Regions from separate parts of the Homo sapiens genome. Here region 2 is linked to region 1. The links come from fine-mapping of genetic effects on gene expression. Tissue or cell type: whole blood. Region 1 holds a variant in brackets; the other region holds the start of a gene. All regions are shown on one strand. Distances are from middle to middle.

Region 1 (8,104 bases):
TAAGTGATGATGCATATTTCTAGTTCCATCTTCACTTTGTGAATTCTGCTTGGTTAGATCTGCCACATGGTTGATACCAGGCCCTTGGACTGAATCACAGCCTTCAGTGATAACCTTGGCCATATAGGAGAGTATACTCAAGAGTAGGGCCAACTTGGGTTTTTTCTTTCATTTCCTTTTCCTACTGGACAAAGGGAAAATACCCTTGTGTCTTTGCAGGCATGTGGTATACTCACAGATTTTCTCAGCTTTCATTTAACACGACCACATCCATTATAAGGAGAAATTTTGCTTTTTTTTTTTGAGACAGAGTTTCGCTTTGTCACCCAGGCTGGAGTGCAGTGGTGTGATCTCAGCTCACTGCAACCTCCACCTCTCAGGGGTTCAAGCAGTTCTCCTGCCTCAGCCTCCCAAGTAGCTGGGACTACAGGTGCCCGCTACCACGCCTGGCTAATTTTTGTATTTTTAGTAGAGGTGGGGTTTCACCATGTTGGCCAGGCTGGTCTCGAACTCCTGACCTCAAATGATCCACCCACCTCGGCCTCCCAAAGTGCTGGGATTACAGGCATGAGCTACCGCTTCCGGCCGGAATTTTGCTTTATTTGTTTTTCAAATAAATGTTGTTCCCTGTGATTTCATAGAATTAAAAATAATTTTAAGACTAATCTTTTTAGAAGAAACTACTATGATAAGCCTCATGAATATAGTAAGTAATGGGGTTCCTGTCCAGAGAAGGGAGAAAGGCTTCTTCTTCCATTGGTCAGGATAAGAGTTAAATATTTTAAAGAAGATTGGAAAACAGAATCATATCTTGTCTTCTCTTAACCTACAGGGAGCTGAGCGGAAAATCAGGGATGAAGAACGAAAGCAAAGCAAAAGAAAAGGCAAGTGTCCTGACCCCAGCTCCCAGGTGAATGCCTGTAAGTAGAAATGTTCCCGGCAAGCTTCAGACCTTTTCCATTGAGAATGGTGGCTGGAGTTTGCACGCAGAAGACAGTGGGTGTTCTTCCTGTTCTGCAGTGTGGCACTGCCTCTTCCTCAGATCAGCAGCAGATGCCAGCTCAGCGGGAGGGGTTTTCCTGGGGACTACAGGATAGATCCCTGGGTTTTCCCGACCTCAGCGTTTTTGGCTCTCAGTTCTAGTTCAGACTTCTGTTTCCAGTCTTGAAAAATGACAACACGTTCTGCATGAATCACTGTTAAAATTGGGACTTATCTAGATTTTTTAAAGTAATAATAATGGTCTTGAGAATTCAAGATGTCTTAACTCCAAGTAAGATCATATTTTGTATCTAAAGTATAGTATTTTAATATTTGCAGAATCTATAGGGCTTCTGTTTGGACATTTCACCAGGAAGGCTTTGTTTTCTTTTTTTTTTAATTGTGACCAGTATTCATATTCACAAAATCTTGTATCTAAAATGAAGAAAGTGCTGTTCTGTGCCTGTAGGGTTCCATCTGTAGTACATGGGCTTCTGGCAGCTCTTTTGAATGGTCTGTCTGGCTCAGCAGACATTTGCCCTGCAACACCTTAGTCAGGATTCTCCTACTGGTATCAAAGTACAAACTCCCAGTGACACTTCAGAGAGCAGCTGACTAACTAGGAGACCTCATTACTGAGTACTTCAGGGCCAGCCAGATCATTGGGGAAGATGGAGTCTCTAACTTACTAAATTAAAAATTGGATGGGCATGCTTACACTTCACCTCATTGTCGAGTTTCTTGATATGTTCTGAAGTCAATGGGTCCATGAGTGTTGGAATGTAAATTATTTAATGAGGACAGCTGAGGTGAAATTTCTTCCAAATTATGTTTACACAATTATACATTTTAGCCTTTCCAATGAAAACTAAATACGCTCTGCCTCTGTCGCAAATCTTCTGTGGATATGCGTCTGTGTGTGTTTGAAGATACCTTTTCCCTTTTGATTTGATAAGACATTCAGTTGATTTTAGTGGAAATACACACAACAAATTCCTTTACATAAACTGGGATTCTTAGGCAGGCAGCGTGCCCTGTTGTATCTTACAGAGTGCTACACTTGGAGTATCTTACTCAGAGGCGAGCACTCTGTGGCCTGCATCCAGTCTGTATGTAATCCTTTGACCTTGGCTTCCTCTTTTTTAATTTTTTTTTTTTTCAGTTTCTGATGTTAAAGTGCCACTGCTTCCCTCTCACAAGCGAATGGATATCACAGTTTTCAAACCCTTCATTGATCTCGATACTCAGCCTGTCCTCTTCATTCCTGACGTGCACTTTGCCAACTTGCAGCGGGGCACTCATGTAGGTAACCAGGATCCCAGGGGAGGTTACCAGGAAGGAAGGCATGGCAAAAGGAAATTCTTTGGCATTATTCATGGGAAACAGAAGCCAAAATTGAGTGAGGTTTGACCAGTTAGTCAGCTCTTTGGAATATTCTGCTGGGGTGACATGATGCCCGTGCAATAAAAATGGTAAGCATCGCTGATTTCAAGGTGCAGTGCAGCCTGTCAGCTTTATTCTGTTTGTATTCATTCATTCATTCGTTCGTTCTTCATACCTACATATCCTAGCTCATTTAAAAGATTCTAGAATAGTAGCATAATTTGGAGTTTGAGCCTGTCATCTTTTTAAACTTAACTTGGGGCAATACCTAGGTTAAGGAGCTCTTATAACATAAGAACATCCGAAGGCTTTTCTCACAGTTCCAGTTACTGAGCCGTCCTTGCCACGTGTAGTTACCAATGGCCATGTCTTGGCAACTAAAACTAAATTTTAAAAAATGGTCACGCCCTGTTTTGTGGCAAAGGCTTACAAGGGATAGAAACTTCAGTAGAATGAAGCATGGTTTTATGCTGAGTGCAAATAAATATCAAAAAGACAGTCTTTCATGCACTTTGTGGACAGATTTATAAGGACTAAAGATTCGTCAGAGTTCTTGGGGCCATGGCCAGTACATTTAGTTTCTAATGGGAAGCTGGAGGTGAGCAGGGGTTAGCACACTGTTTTTGTGAAGGGCTGGGCCGTAAAGGTTTTCAGCTTTTGGGGCCCCGTGGTCTCCACTGTGCTGCTCAGTGCTGCCGAACTAGTGCACACATGGCCATAAGCAGCATGTGAATGAATGAGCGTGGCTTTGTTTCAGTAAAGACTTTATTTACATGAACTGGCTTTAGACCAGATTTGGCCCAACCACTGAGTTAAAGGAGTTCAAGACATCTGTAAGAATCTGTTATTGAAAACTAAGGCTAAAGGATTTTATATTAGATTGGTGAAATTCAAAATTATTTCCATTTTAGGAATAATTCATTTATGGCCAAACATTTTGAGCATACATTTGAAAAGCAATCTATTCCTTTGGTCTTAGGTCCTTCCCATTGCCTCTGAAGAATTGGAGGGTGAAGGGTAAGATTTATGTTTTGTTTTGTTTTGTTTTAATAATGGAAATGATTTCAAACTTGTAGAAAAACTGCAAGTACAGTACAAAGAACTCATTTTTCCCTGAGCCATCAAGGATAAGTTGCCAGCCTGATGGCCCATCACTCCTGAATATCGTGGTATATATTTCCTACCAACAAGGACATCCTCCTGTGTCACAGTCAAGATTAGAATATTAACATTGCTTCATTAGCACCAATAATGTCCTTTATAGCAAAAAAGGATCCAGTTCAGGATCACACATTGTAGTTGTTTGTCATGTTTGTTGATCTTCTTCAGTCTAGAACTAAGCCACTCCTTAACTTTTCTGACCAAATATTTTTGAAGATTACAACCAGCTGTTTTGTAGACTCTTCTTAGTTTGCGTGTGTCTGCTGCTCTCTCATGGTTAGATTCCAGGCCTGGCAGGGATGT[C/T]ATAGAGGCCAGGCTGGGTTCTCCGTGTGTCCTAGCAGATGGCGCTTGATGTCAGTTTATCTGTTACTAATGGTGTTCTTTGGTCACTTGATTAAGCTGGTATCTGCCAGCTTCTCCACTGCAAAGTGGCTCCTTTTATAGTAAGTGTTGTCTGGGGAGGTGCATTGTAGCTTTGTAAATATCTCATTCCCCATCAAACTTTCAGTTTACTCGTTCATTTATTGCTATCAGTATGAACTCATAGTTTCCTGTTTTATTCAATAAGCTGTGATTCATTAGTCATTTACTTTGATGCTCAGGTTGTCCCAGAATTGGGCTCTGCCTTCCTGTGCCGGGCAGCCCCCTACTCATGCTGCCTAGTGGAGGGGGGCTGACGCTACCCCTCTTTGGGCTATCAGAACCTTCTTGATGGCTCTGGGACTTTTTCAACAAGGCAAAGATTCTTTTTGTTTTTATTTCATTTTACTTTTAGAGACAGGGTCTTGCTCTGAGGCCCATGTAGGAGTGCAGGGGTGCAGTCACAGCTCACTGCAGCCTTGAGCTTCTGGGCTTAAGTGATCCTCCTGCCTCAGACTCCTGAGTAGGTGGGACTACAGGCACATGCCACCACACCCATCTAATTATTATTATTATTATTATTATTATTATTATTATTATTATTGTAGAGATCCTGGTCTCAGGCAATCCTCCCGCCTCAGCCTCCCTCTTTCTGTTATCTGCCCTCAGAAAGGTGCATCCTGATGGAGAGAGCCAAGATTTCCATGGGAAGTTCATTCCTCAGCATCCCTCTTCCCTCATCTTCCATCCATTCCCAGGGCTTAAACCGTCATACTGGGGACATTCATGCCCCACACGTTACCCATCGTGCCTCTCTTTGAAGGCGAGGCCTGCACTGCCCCTTTGATTCTTAGTGTTTCAGGCTTGAGTCCTGCCGGCACTTTCACTAGACGGCTGCTGTGTGTTAGGAACTGAGGTGGCAGAGTCTCGGAGGCTCAGCCCCTGCTCCTGAAGTGGCCATTCTGCTCCAAATCCAGCACTCCCTCCCTTCACTTTCAGTTATCTACCTCTTCTCTTGCTTGCCGTGACACCACCTGCTGGACCCTCCATGCCAGGTGCCCCTGGTAGCCAGGCGTTCGTTCGATCTGAGTTTTTCTCTCCTCAGACTCTCCTTGGTCTGTTCTCACCTTTTGGCTTCCATGATACCACCATATTTTAAACCTGTGGAATCCTGTGCTCGGATTATACCAGCCTCCTTCCCCTGGTTTTTCTGCTTGAAGGTCCTGGGGTCCCCTCCAGTCTTGACCACACACTTTGGGTACCAACACACTTTGGGTACCACACTCAGTCTCACAGACCTTTCAACTATTCCCTCTTCTCTGCCATGTAAAATTTAATTCCTTAGAGCTGAATGATCAGGACATTCACGGTAGAGTCGGCTTCCCGAAATTTCTAGATATGGCTTCCTGTGGGCCATTCTGTTTGAGCCAGGCTGGCCCTGCATTTTCCTGCTCACACTTCCTCAGTGTTTTGAAACATCATCTCCTTTGTCACTGCCTGTACAAGGTTATCTCAGATCCTGCCTCCTCCATAGAGTGTTTCCTGAAAAGAAGCACCAGACAGCCAGGCGTGGTGGATCATGCCTATAATTCCAGCACTTTGGGAGGCCAAGGTAGGAAGATCGCTTGAGCCCAGGAATTTGAGAACATCCTGGGCAACATAGGGAGAACCCATCTCTACAAAAATAAAAAAATTAGTTGGGTGTGGTGGTGTGCGCCACTTGGGAGGCTGAGGTGGAAGGATTGCTTGGGCCTGGGCGGTTGAGGCTGCAGTGAGCCGTGATCCATGATTGCACCACTGCACTCCAGCCTGAGCAACAGAATGAGACCCTGTCTCACAAAAAAAAAAAAAAACCAAAGCGCCTCATCTTCGAGAAGGCAGCTTTATCTGATGAGAGTGCAGATACCTGCAGGGAACCTGAGTGTGGTCCCATGTCTGCCTGTAAATATCCATGAGCCCTGGAGTCAGGATCTTCCTTTAGCCTGATTTTTCATCCACAAATAAGGAAGCTGGACCAGATAAAGAATGAAAGTCATTTTAAATCTAGTTCCATGACAGGCTCTAAAACACCTTAATGTTGATGCAGCTGGTTAAGTTGAATCACTAACGGCATATTTTGGATCACTGCAGCTCTGTCTTGAAAAGGGGGCCGTACGGCACAGAAGATGACTTTGCTGTCCCTCCTTCTACCAAGCTGGCCCGGATAGAAGAACCAAAGAGAGGTGTGTTCGTTTCCATTTCTTAGTGGGAGTTTTAAATCAGAAGTGAGTTCAGAATCTATCAAAAGCATAAATGGTTCAAGCACATTTTTCCCAGTTTCACTTGCTTGGGAATTCTTCCATCAGACTGACATCTAGCTTGAGCTAGGACTTAGAGCAAAGTTCAGAGAAGCTGAAACCTGTGTTCCTTAAGACAGAATTGATATTGGCTGATGCTTGTCATCCTTGATGTGAATGTGGTTTTTATTTTAGCTGGTACCGTGGTCTGTTTTCCTCTTTTGCTCATGTGAACTGTATCCTTTTTTTCCTCTCTTTTCCCTTCCTTATTCCTGGTTGGGGATTGATTAGTGCTGCTCTACGTTCGAAAGGAGTCAGAAGAAGTCTTTGATGCCCTGATGCTCAAAACCCCATCTTTGAAGGGCTTGATGGAAGCTGTAAGTAGGATCAACTCTGTAATCCCCTGTACAAAATGAAAGGACAAGTACATAGGATTTCATTGAAACACTTTATCAGATGATCCAAATCCTTTGTCAGACCTTCTGGAATCCCTGACACCTTTCTCGAGTCGTCGTGCGTCCCACATTTTATCCTCACCCAGGGGTCTTAACTCACACAGTCACTCAGTCACACCTGTTCCACTGAAGTGAATGCATCTGTGATGGCCTATGAAATGTTTAATTTTTATATACGTGGTTAAAGGGAGATTGCCATTTAGCAAGCCACTTAGAAGCTAACAAAAGTGATTTTTAATCAAGTACAATCTTAAAAACTTCATACATAAAAACAGTGGCTCCTCAGTCTACCTTTAAAACTCCCAATCCTAGGAAATTACTGAACTTGCATCAAGACCTCACTACAGCCTATTGCAGAGAAAGTAGACGTGTAACCAGTGATGGCCGTAAGTCCATCTTACGAGGATCTCAGCACGAGGCTGGAATAAACTGACCCCATGCTCCCTGTGGGGATATCAGTAAGAGAGGAAACATGGAAGGCTGCTGTGTTAATTTCCCGTTCCAGCTGTGCACTGGAAAAACGCATGTCATCAGCACTGAGTGCAGATATTTACCAGCCTGTCTCCTAGAGACCGTAGAGATCTTTAAGCTCAAAGTGTGTCCATAATTGGGCTAAAAGCATCTCCCCCAGCTCCCTCTGATGACTGTAGTGTGTTGAATTCATTTAACACATCTTGATAAAGGGCTTGCTTCATGCCAGGCACTGTGGCGGGCACTGGAGTTATGCGCGTCAGTGACACAGTGCTGAATGGAGTTTATTTTGTAGTTAGGAAGACACAGACACCAAAATAAGCAAAGAAGTTGAGGTCATTTTTCAGGTACTGATGAGTGCCATGAAGATTAATAAAGCAGGGAGATGGGGCGTGGGTTTGGGGAGCTGCTGTGCGGTCTCTCAGCCAGGCGCCCCAAGTCCACGGGTGTCACTCAGTGCATCCCTGCCTGCCCACAGCACAGGCAGCGCCGTTCCCACTGTCACTTCCTGCCTCCTAGGATGTCCCCTGGGTTTCTCTTTTCTTGCCTTTTGATGACCCTTCATCATGTCTTAAGAATCATGCAAACTGGCCAGGTGCGGTGGCTCACACCTGTAATCCCAGCACTTTGGGAGGCAGAGGCAGGAGGATCACCTGAGGTCAGGAGTTCGAGACCAGCCTGGCCAACATGGAGAAACCCTGTCTCTACTAAAAATACAAAAAATTAGCCAGGCTTGGTGGCAGGCGCCTGTAATCCCAGCTACTCGGGAGGCTGAGGCAGGAGAATCACTTGAACCAGGGAGGTGGAGGTTGTAGTGAGCTGAGATCCCGCCACTGTACTCCAGCCTGGCATAGCAAGACTCCGTCTCAAAAAAAAAAAAACAACAAAAAACAAACAAACAAAAAACATGCAAATTCTGATTACAGGGAAAGAGGAGAGTAAAGAGGATGCAGAATTACTGGGCCAGCATAACTGTTCATGGCTCACGAGGAACTCATGACAGGTCTTACATGTCAG
Region 2 (8,104 bases), 43 kb before region 1:
GGCTTGAGAATCACTTGAACCCGGGACGTGGAGGTTGCAGTGAGCAGAGATTGCATCACTGCATTCCAGCCTGGGCAACAAGAGCCAAACTCCATCTCAAAAAACAAACAAACAAAAAACCAAATGGCAGCTGTGCATTCCCTTTTCTCAGTAACTCCGATTCTAGGAATTTATCCTATGGCAATACCTGATCAAGTGTGCAAAAATGTAGTTAGAGGAATGTGTTATTGTGAATGTTTGTAATTAAGAAAAGCTAGGGGAAAAAACCCTAATTGCTCACCAATACATTCAAGTTATCATATAGCCATTCAAGGAAACACCATACAGCCATTTTTTAAAGTGAACTAGATTTCTATGTGCTGATGTGGAAAATGTTTAAACCATAGAAAGGAAAAACAAGCAAGCTGTGGAAGATTGTGCAGTCCGAATCCCATTTGTCTAAGAAAATAAACCATGTGAGTGCTTGTACAGACAGAAGATATCTGGAAAGATCAACACAAATTGTTCACAGTGGTTGTCTCAAGGATTAGGGGCTGGGAATGGAGGAGGCCAGGGACTGCATTCTGTATCCTTCTGCAGAGCTTCAATTTCTTCCTTTCTCCTTTCTTTGTCCCGTTCCTAATCCCTTTCTATCTTTTTTTATTTTTGAGATGGAGTCTTGTTGTCACCCAGGCTGGAGTGCAGTGGCGCGATCTTGGCTCACTGCAACCTCCGCCTTCTGGGTTCAAGCGATTCTCCTGCCTCAGCCTCCCGAGTAGCTGGGAATACAGATACCCACCACCATGCCCGGCTAATTTTTGTATTTTTGTTAGAGATGGGGTTTCACCATGTTGGCCAGGCTGGTCTCAAACCCCTGACCTCAGGTGATCTGCCCACATCGGCCTCCCAAAGCTCTGGGATTACAGGCGTGAGCCAGCACGCCCAGCATTTTTTCTTCCATAAAAACTATGTGCATATATTACTTTAATAATTTAAACAAATAGTAAAGAACTTAAAAATGAAGAGGGTAGGCCAGGCATGGTGGTTCACATCTGTAATCCCAGCACTTTGGGAGGCTGGGAGGATGGGAGGATCGTTGGAGCACAGGAGTTCAAGACCAGCCTGGGCAATATGGTGAGACCCTGTCTCTACAAAACATACACACACACACACATACACACTAGCCAGGTGTGGTGGTGTGCACGTGTAGCCCCAGCTACTCAGGAGGCTGAGGTGGGAGAATCACTTGAGCCTGGGAAGTCAAGGCTGCGGTGAGCTGTGATGGTGCCACTGCACTCCAGCCTGAGTAACACAGTGAGACCCTGTCTCAGATAAAATAAAATGAAATAAACAGGGTTCATGGCAACAGGTCATAGATAGAGATTTTCATTTCTGTTTTAGAGAGCTATTAGAGACAAACTAAACAATCCCATATTCAAATTGACAAAATAGACCCAATGTTTTTAATTACTACAGCTATGGTCTAATAACCTCAGGCTCTTCCTGTTCTTGTTTTTGGCTTTATGATTGGATATTTCTTCATTCATCCCCTATTTATTTTGTGCCTACCATGTATTAGGCTCAAGGACTTTCATCTTCTGCAACGGTGGGGGGGGTCATTTAAAAGAGCCCTAGCTATGCTACAGAAGGGAGGAGACTGGGCGCAGAACGCATGCCTGCAGAGGACTGCATCCATTCAGTAGACATTTGCTGGATATTTTCTATGTATATACCAGGCACCAGGAACATAAAAATGAAGGTGGTACAACCGCTGCCCTCTCTGGAAAAGCTCACACTTGGTGGAGACAGACACAAACAGGAAAGCCCATAAGACAAACATGGTGATGGGCAATGCAGAAGGCGCTGTGGATCCCACAGGACACCTTGTCCAGCCTAGAGGGTTGGGAAGGCCACCTGGAGGAAATGAGCCAGGCTGGAAGTTGAGTGGAGTGGGCCAAGCATGGAGGGAAGGAGCAGGGAATGCGGGGACGGTGCTTGGGAGTGAGCAGTAAGGGAAGTGCTGGGCCGCCAAGGGGAGGCTGAGCTCAGGAGTGTGGACTTTATGGTGAGTATAACTGAGTGACAAGAAATCTGTGTTTTATAAAGGCCACTCCAGTGGCAGTGTGGAGCCGGGTCAGAGGAAATAGAAGAAAGGCAGGTAGAGGGACACTGTTCCCAAGTCAGTCACTTTGGCACCACCCTGATGACTTGTACCCTATTTGGGACCATCTGTGCTGTTATTGACTAGCATTTTTCTTAAATTAGCGTGCTTAGAAAACATAATTGATTTGGCAGGGCGCGGTGACTCATGCCTGTAATCCCAGCACTTTGAGAGGCCGAGGCGGGCAGATTGCCTGAGGTCAGGAGTTTGAGACCTGCCTGGTCAACTTAGTGAAACCCCATCTCTACTAAAAATAGAAAAATTAGCCGAGCGTGGTGGTGGGCGCCTGTGATCCTAGCTACTTGGGAGGCTGAGGCAGGAGAGTCGCTTGAACCCAGGAGGCAGAGGTTGCAGTAAGCTGAGATCACGGCACTGCACTCCAGCCTGGGCAACAGAGGGAGATTCCGCCTCAAAAAAAAAAAAAAAAAAAAAAAGGAAAAGAAAAAAATAATAAATGATTTAAACAGGAAACTAGTGGTAAGAACAAACAACAGGCTGCATGGATCCAGTGCTGGGCCCGGGGTCAGAGGACAGAAACTGCGAAGGGCGGTCTCAAGTGAGGCTGCCGATTCCGGTCCCTGAAGGCCTTGGACCAGGGCACAGAGGAGGGACTGCTGGCTGCAGGAGGGCCCTGTGACCTCATGCTGCTCCTCACTTCACCTCCTTCCCTTGGCTTCCACGCTTCCATTGCTTCCGACCTCGGTGTCCCCGTCTTCTGTCTCCTCCACTGGCTCTTCCTCCCAGCCTTTCTGTGTCGGAGGCTCCTGGATCCAGCATGGGTCCCATCCTCTTTCCTTCCTGCCTTCTCATGGCTTTAAATGGCCTCTAGACGTGGGCGGCGCCCAGATGTGAGCTTCAGCCCAGACTTCTCCCTTGCACTCCAGCCTCGTACCCAGGAGCCCACCTGATTCATGGATTTTTATCTCCCATACATCTTGAGCTTAGCACGTCCAAAACAGACTCTCGTTCTCCCCCAAATCTTCTATGCCCCAGGTCTTCTGTATCCCAGGGGATGGCAAATCATTCCTCCAGTTGCCCAGCTGGAAACGCTGTAGTCATCCTTGATTCTCTCTTTCTCTCACACCCCATATCCAATTTTCAGACAATCCTGCTGGTCCCACCTTCAAAGCATATCCAGAATTCGGCCACTTCCCACCACCTCACTCTATTGCCCTCGGCCTGCATCATGGCAATGGCCTCCTACCTGGTCCCCACCACGCAGCAGCAGAGAACTATTTTAAAATGTGAGACCCTGTCACTACCCTGCTCCAAGCCCCTCCAAGGCGTCCCCACCTAGCCCAGAGGGAAAGCCACAGTCCTTACGGAAGCCGGCAAGGCCCTGCTCAATCCGCTCCCCTGCGCCCACTATCTCTGACCGCAGCTCCCGCCTCCCTGTGCCCCACCAGCCACCCGGGTCTCCTCAAGGGTCACAAAACACACCAGGGTCCCTGCCTCAGGTACAGTCCCACCTTCGTGGCCCCTCATCTCCTTCAAGCCTGAAAGCCTCGCTCCTCCCCGCCTCCCCAGGGCCTGCCTGCTTTACCTTCCAACCAGCCACACCATTTACTTGTTTTTGTATTGCCCGTTACCCCAACTAGGAAGGCGAGGAGTTGTGTCTGTTCTGTTGACTGCCCTGTCCCCGGCGTCTGGGGCCGCGCCTGTCCGAGGGTCAGGTCCGACGCTGGGCATGTGGGGACTCAGTGAGCGGACCCTGGGAAAGACGGCAGCTCGGGAAGGACAAGTGGGGGCCGTCGCGGTGGAGTGGTGCCCGGGGCCGGCCCGGGGCGCGCGACTGCACGGGCAGCGTGGGGCGGCCGCGCGGGGAAGTGGCGCCCGGGAGGCTGCGGGGCACAGACATCGCGGAGCCCCAGGGACTGCCGCCGAGGGGACCGCGGGAGCTGCGAGGGCAAGAAATCCTAAAAGCGCGCGGCCGCGGTGGGCCAGGAGAAGGGACATTCCGGAGACGGCTCTCGGGGGAAGCCACGGGACTCGGGCGTGACAGCCTGCGAGAACCGAGAGGTGAGACGCGCGACCGGGGAGCGCGGCGACCGGCAGAGGCGCCCCCGCCGGGCGAGCGCAGGGGCAGCGCGGGGCGCTGGGGCCGGAACAGCGGGCAATGTGGGCACGGGGCGCGGAGGCCTGAGTGAGCGAAGAAGGAGGCGGCTGTACGGCCGGGGCTCGTCGCGAAGGGGATGGCCGGGGACGGCGGGGACGGCGGGGGCGGCGGGGGCGGTGGCGGGGCGCGAGCGGGGGCGCTCTCGGTGCGCGCGGAGGTTGGCGGGTGCGCGCCGCAGCCGCAGCGCTCCCTCTCCTGTCAGGGCAGGCGCGTACGGCCGCGAGTCGGGCGCGCAGCCCCGGGAGCGCAGTCCCGGGCGCAACCTCGCGGAACGCGCGGCCCCCGCCCCCCGCCCCGCGCCGCTCGTCCCCGTCAGCCCCGCCCCGGCGCTCTTCTCGCCGACCAATCAGGAGGCGCGACCGGCCTCCCAGCCCCGAGGCCTCGCCCCCAGCCGGCGCATCGCCAGCCAATGAGCGGCCGAGCCCGGCGCCCAGTGCGCGCAGCCCGCGCGGAGCCGGCTCAGAGCGAGAAAAGCAAACCCAACCCGTCGGGGCCGCCGCTCCGGACCCGCAGCCGCCGCCGCCGCCTCCTCCCCCCGGATCGGGTGTACTGTCCCAACCCGAAAGTCCAGTTCTGCGGCCCGGCAGCGGCGAGCGGGCGCGATGACACAGGAGTACGACAAGTGAGTGAGGCGCAGGAGTCCGGCCGCCGCGGGGGGGCCGCGCTGAGGGGCCGCACCTGCAGCGAGCGAGCCGGGCGCAGACCCGAGGCCGCGCGGGCGGGCGGGCGCGGGGCGCGAGCCGGGGGCCGCTGTCCACTCCACGCCGCCACGGCCTTTGCCCCTTAGCCCTGCCGTGCTCTTTGTTCGGTCGGAGCCTCGGGAGGAGAGACCCTGTCCTCGGGGAAACTCGACACCGGAGGGGCCACCCTCCTCCCCTCCTCCGCGGCCAGGTTGGGTCCCCTCGGGCGCGCACCTTGGGGTCCGGGCCCCCGGCGCGGTCGGGTGCGGCGCGAGGTCGGGGCGCAGCCAACGCCCCCGGGCCTCCCCGCCCCCCTCTCCTGCCCGGTCGGCCTCGGGAGCCTGGTGGGGCTCGCGCCGCGTCGGGACAGGTGGACTTCTCCAGGTAATCTGTGGTCTCAGGCTCGTCACTCGGCGACCTGCTGGAACCTCCAAAACAGAAATGTAGGGAAAGGTTGAAGTGCCCCGATGTCCGGGCGTTTTCTTTTCCCTGGCTGGCGGCATGAGTGGGAAAACGGCTGTAGGAGTTATTTTGCCACTTGCATCATTGATGGTAATTACAGATTACCGTGTTTTTAGTGCTCGAGAGAATCAAGAGGATGAAACTTTGAAATCCGGGTGTTAAACGAGAAAGTACTGTACAAGCTAATATGCTTTTTAGAGTGTGTGATTTAAAAGCGTATTTCGACAAATGTGAGGTGGTAGTGTAATAAGGCATGGGGGATTAACTGGGCGAGGGAGTTTTCTGTATTTTCTTTGCAGCTTTTCTGAAAATATAAAATTGTCCTAAAAATTTTAAAAACTTACTAAAGAAAAAACAGGGAAATCGCACCAGGCCAGTCAGTATATTTCAGATCAGGAAGTTTAAGGCAGATAGGTACCCCTCCCAGTTTCTTAGTTATTTGTGAAGGATCGGTTTTTGTCAGTGTGTTCTTTTTCTGGATGAGATAGATATTTTGTATGGAGTATCTTAAATGGATTACTCTTATGTTGTAGAATATGCAGTTAAATTATTGCCTGAAACATATTTCAGAAGTCTGAGAGATCGCAGACGCGGAGTTTAAGGCTCACCTGAAAGTGATGATGAGCCTTCGGCGACTGAAGCCTACTTCCTGACTGTCATGAGGAAGTGGACTAAGAAAGGCAACTGGTTTTGTGTTTATTTCTTGACGTATAGTTTAGATAAGGCAAATTTTCCAAAGCTAACATTTTGGCCTTAGGCAGGCTTTGGAAATATGAAACACCTTCAGGGTGATTCCAAACATAAAGCCATTTCTTTCTCTGTTTTCTATTGCTTGTACAAATTTGGGATGTGGGTGGGAGAAGAAGGGAAGTTGAAAACTAGCATTAAGGGAATTGAACAGCCAAGTGCTGTCATAGTCTTCTGGAAGTAGCTATTACGCTATTAATTATAGCTTAGCAGTACATCAGTCAATCAGTCCATGGCACCAGCCGTTCAGTAGCTGTTGTACTCTGGTCCTGATGGCTCAGGGAATGCCACTTTGTATATTTCTTTATTTTCTTTAAAGTTGAGATTTGTGTAAGCAATCTTCTCCATTTTTAGACAAATGATCTGCTGGCTTTGAACAGTCTTTTATGTTTGTTTTGTGTTAAAATAGTATACCACCTCAAGACTTTCTTACCAAATGTAACGTTTATGCCAAAACGTGAGTAAAAACATTGGCTTTCAAATAACACTTCATTTTGACTGAGGATACATTGTTGGATTTTTTTCCCCTTTTTTGAAGATGTTCTCCTTTTTCTAAATCTGTATCTGTTCTTAAAGGCCCTGGGTGACTCCCAAACGCTAACCTTTGTTGATTACTTGAAAAGATAATCAGTCTTTCTACATTCACTTTTAAAATAGGCAGGTCACCTTTAGGCCATTTACATATTTCATTTGTGTGTTGCAATGAGAGCCAGTCCTTCAATTTGCTTGTTAGAATTGTAATAATTCAGAGGAGTTCCAAACATTTAAAATTTATTTTTCTCCTTGAAAATAAACTGCTTTGTTTTGCTAGAGTCAGTGTTCCATTTTTTCTCTTTATTGACTTATTAAATAGTACCAACCGAACAGTTGTTGAGACTGTTTACATTTCAAGTTTTTGGAATTAGTAATGTTTGCTTTAATCTTTTAAATTAAATCTTCTGTAAGGTTTCACTAAGATCGCCATTGATTTTTTTGGATTTTTCCCACCAAACTACAGTGTTAAAATGAAACAGTTCTTGTGCAATGTGGAAAACTAGCAAAGATTTTTTAAAAGCCAGATTTTCCCACCTATTTTTTTTAAAACTTTTTGTTCAGTGGCTTCATTTATTGTTGGATATCCTTAAGTGTTTATCTCTAAGATAAACAGTTAACTCCCATGCCAGAAAATTATGCCTCTTTATTGATTTACAGTCCCCTTTGGCCACATTCCATGCTCAATCTGCTGGTAATCAGTAGAATATTCTGGCTTTCTCATATACCCTGGAGGATTGCGTGAAGGATCCCTTTTTCTTTCTGCTGCTTCTCCCCTCCCCACTGTGTTCAGGTAGGAATTTTTAAGGCATGGCAGCCACAGTAGAAAGAGGGAATAACATGTAGCAGTGTGATGAACGGCACACGCTCTTCTCAAGAGGGGACAGTCCTGATTGTGTGTTGGAAGAGAACAAGTATTCTCTTTTCTTTACTGTGTCCTTGTGTTTGTTTATGGAAAGTATTTGAATAGCCTGGCATTTTCTCGGGGATGGTTTTGTTTCGCTTTTTTGCCAAATAGTATACCCTGGGTTCCACGTGTAGGTGAACTGCCAGTTCTCTGGCTGCCTAGATACTTTATGTCTTACTGTGGGACCCATTGGTCTGCACTTACGTGGTTTGTCTTCTGGTCTTGTCTTAATTTGACTTCCTAGGGTCATTGATGAAACAATAGGCTATTTTATAGGAATGTCAAGGAATTGGTAGCTTATGATACCTTGCAGTAGAAAAGTGTGTGTTTTTGTTTTTTTTTTAATTTCTCTGAAGCAAACGGCCAGTGTTGGTTCTTCAGAATGAAGCACTTTATCCACAGCGGCGGTCCTACACTAGTGAGGATGAGGCCTGGAAATCCTTCCTGGAAAACCCTCTCACTGCAGCGACCAAAGCGATGATGAGCATCAATGGAGATGAAGACAGCGCCGCTGCGCTGGG

Evidence for each region. PIP is the estimated chance that this variant, and not a neighbour inherited with it, causes the effect.
Region 2: it holds the start of GRHL1, and the variant in region 1 is fine-mapped to the expression of GRHL1 in whole blood (INTERVAL, PIP above 0.99).

The regions. Positions count from the first base shown.
Region 1 is chr2:9,989,864-9,997,967 of GRCh38, forward strand. GRHL1 (grainyhead like transcription factor 1) reads left to right here. Exons shown (of 16, transcript NM_198182.3): 10 at 833-884; 11 at 2,144-2,283; 12 at 3,344-3,381; 13 at 6,016-6,107; 14 at 6,453-6,538. LOC124905970 (a long non-coding RNA gene) reads right to left here. Exons shown (of 2, transcript XR_007086207.1): 2 at 3,112-6,564. Among named protein-coding and RNA genes, the nearest start is that of GRHL1, 42 kb to the left of the region's middle. The variant C/T (reference allele first, on the strand shown) is at 3,829.
Region 2 is chr2:9,946,976-9,955,079 of GRCh38, forward strand. GRHL1 (grainyhead like transcription factor 1) reads left to right here and starts at 4,718. Exons shown (of 16, transcript NM_198182.3): 1 at 4,718-4,878; 2 at 7,940-8,104. The coding sequence starts at 4,859. LOC105373422 (a long non-coding RNA gene) reads right to left here and starts at 3,878. Exons shown (of 3, transcript XR_922784.4): 1 at 3,730-3,878. RefSeq lists silencers at 3,949-4,028, 4,179-4,228, 4,329-4,378, 4,469-5,008.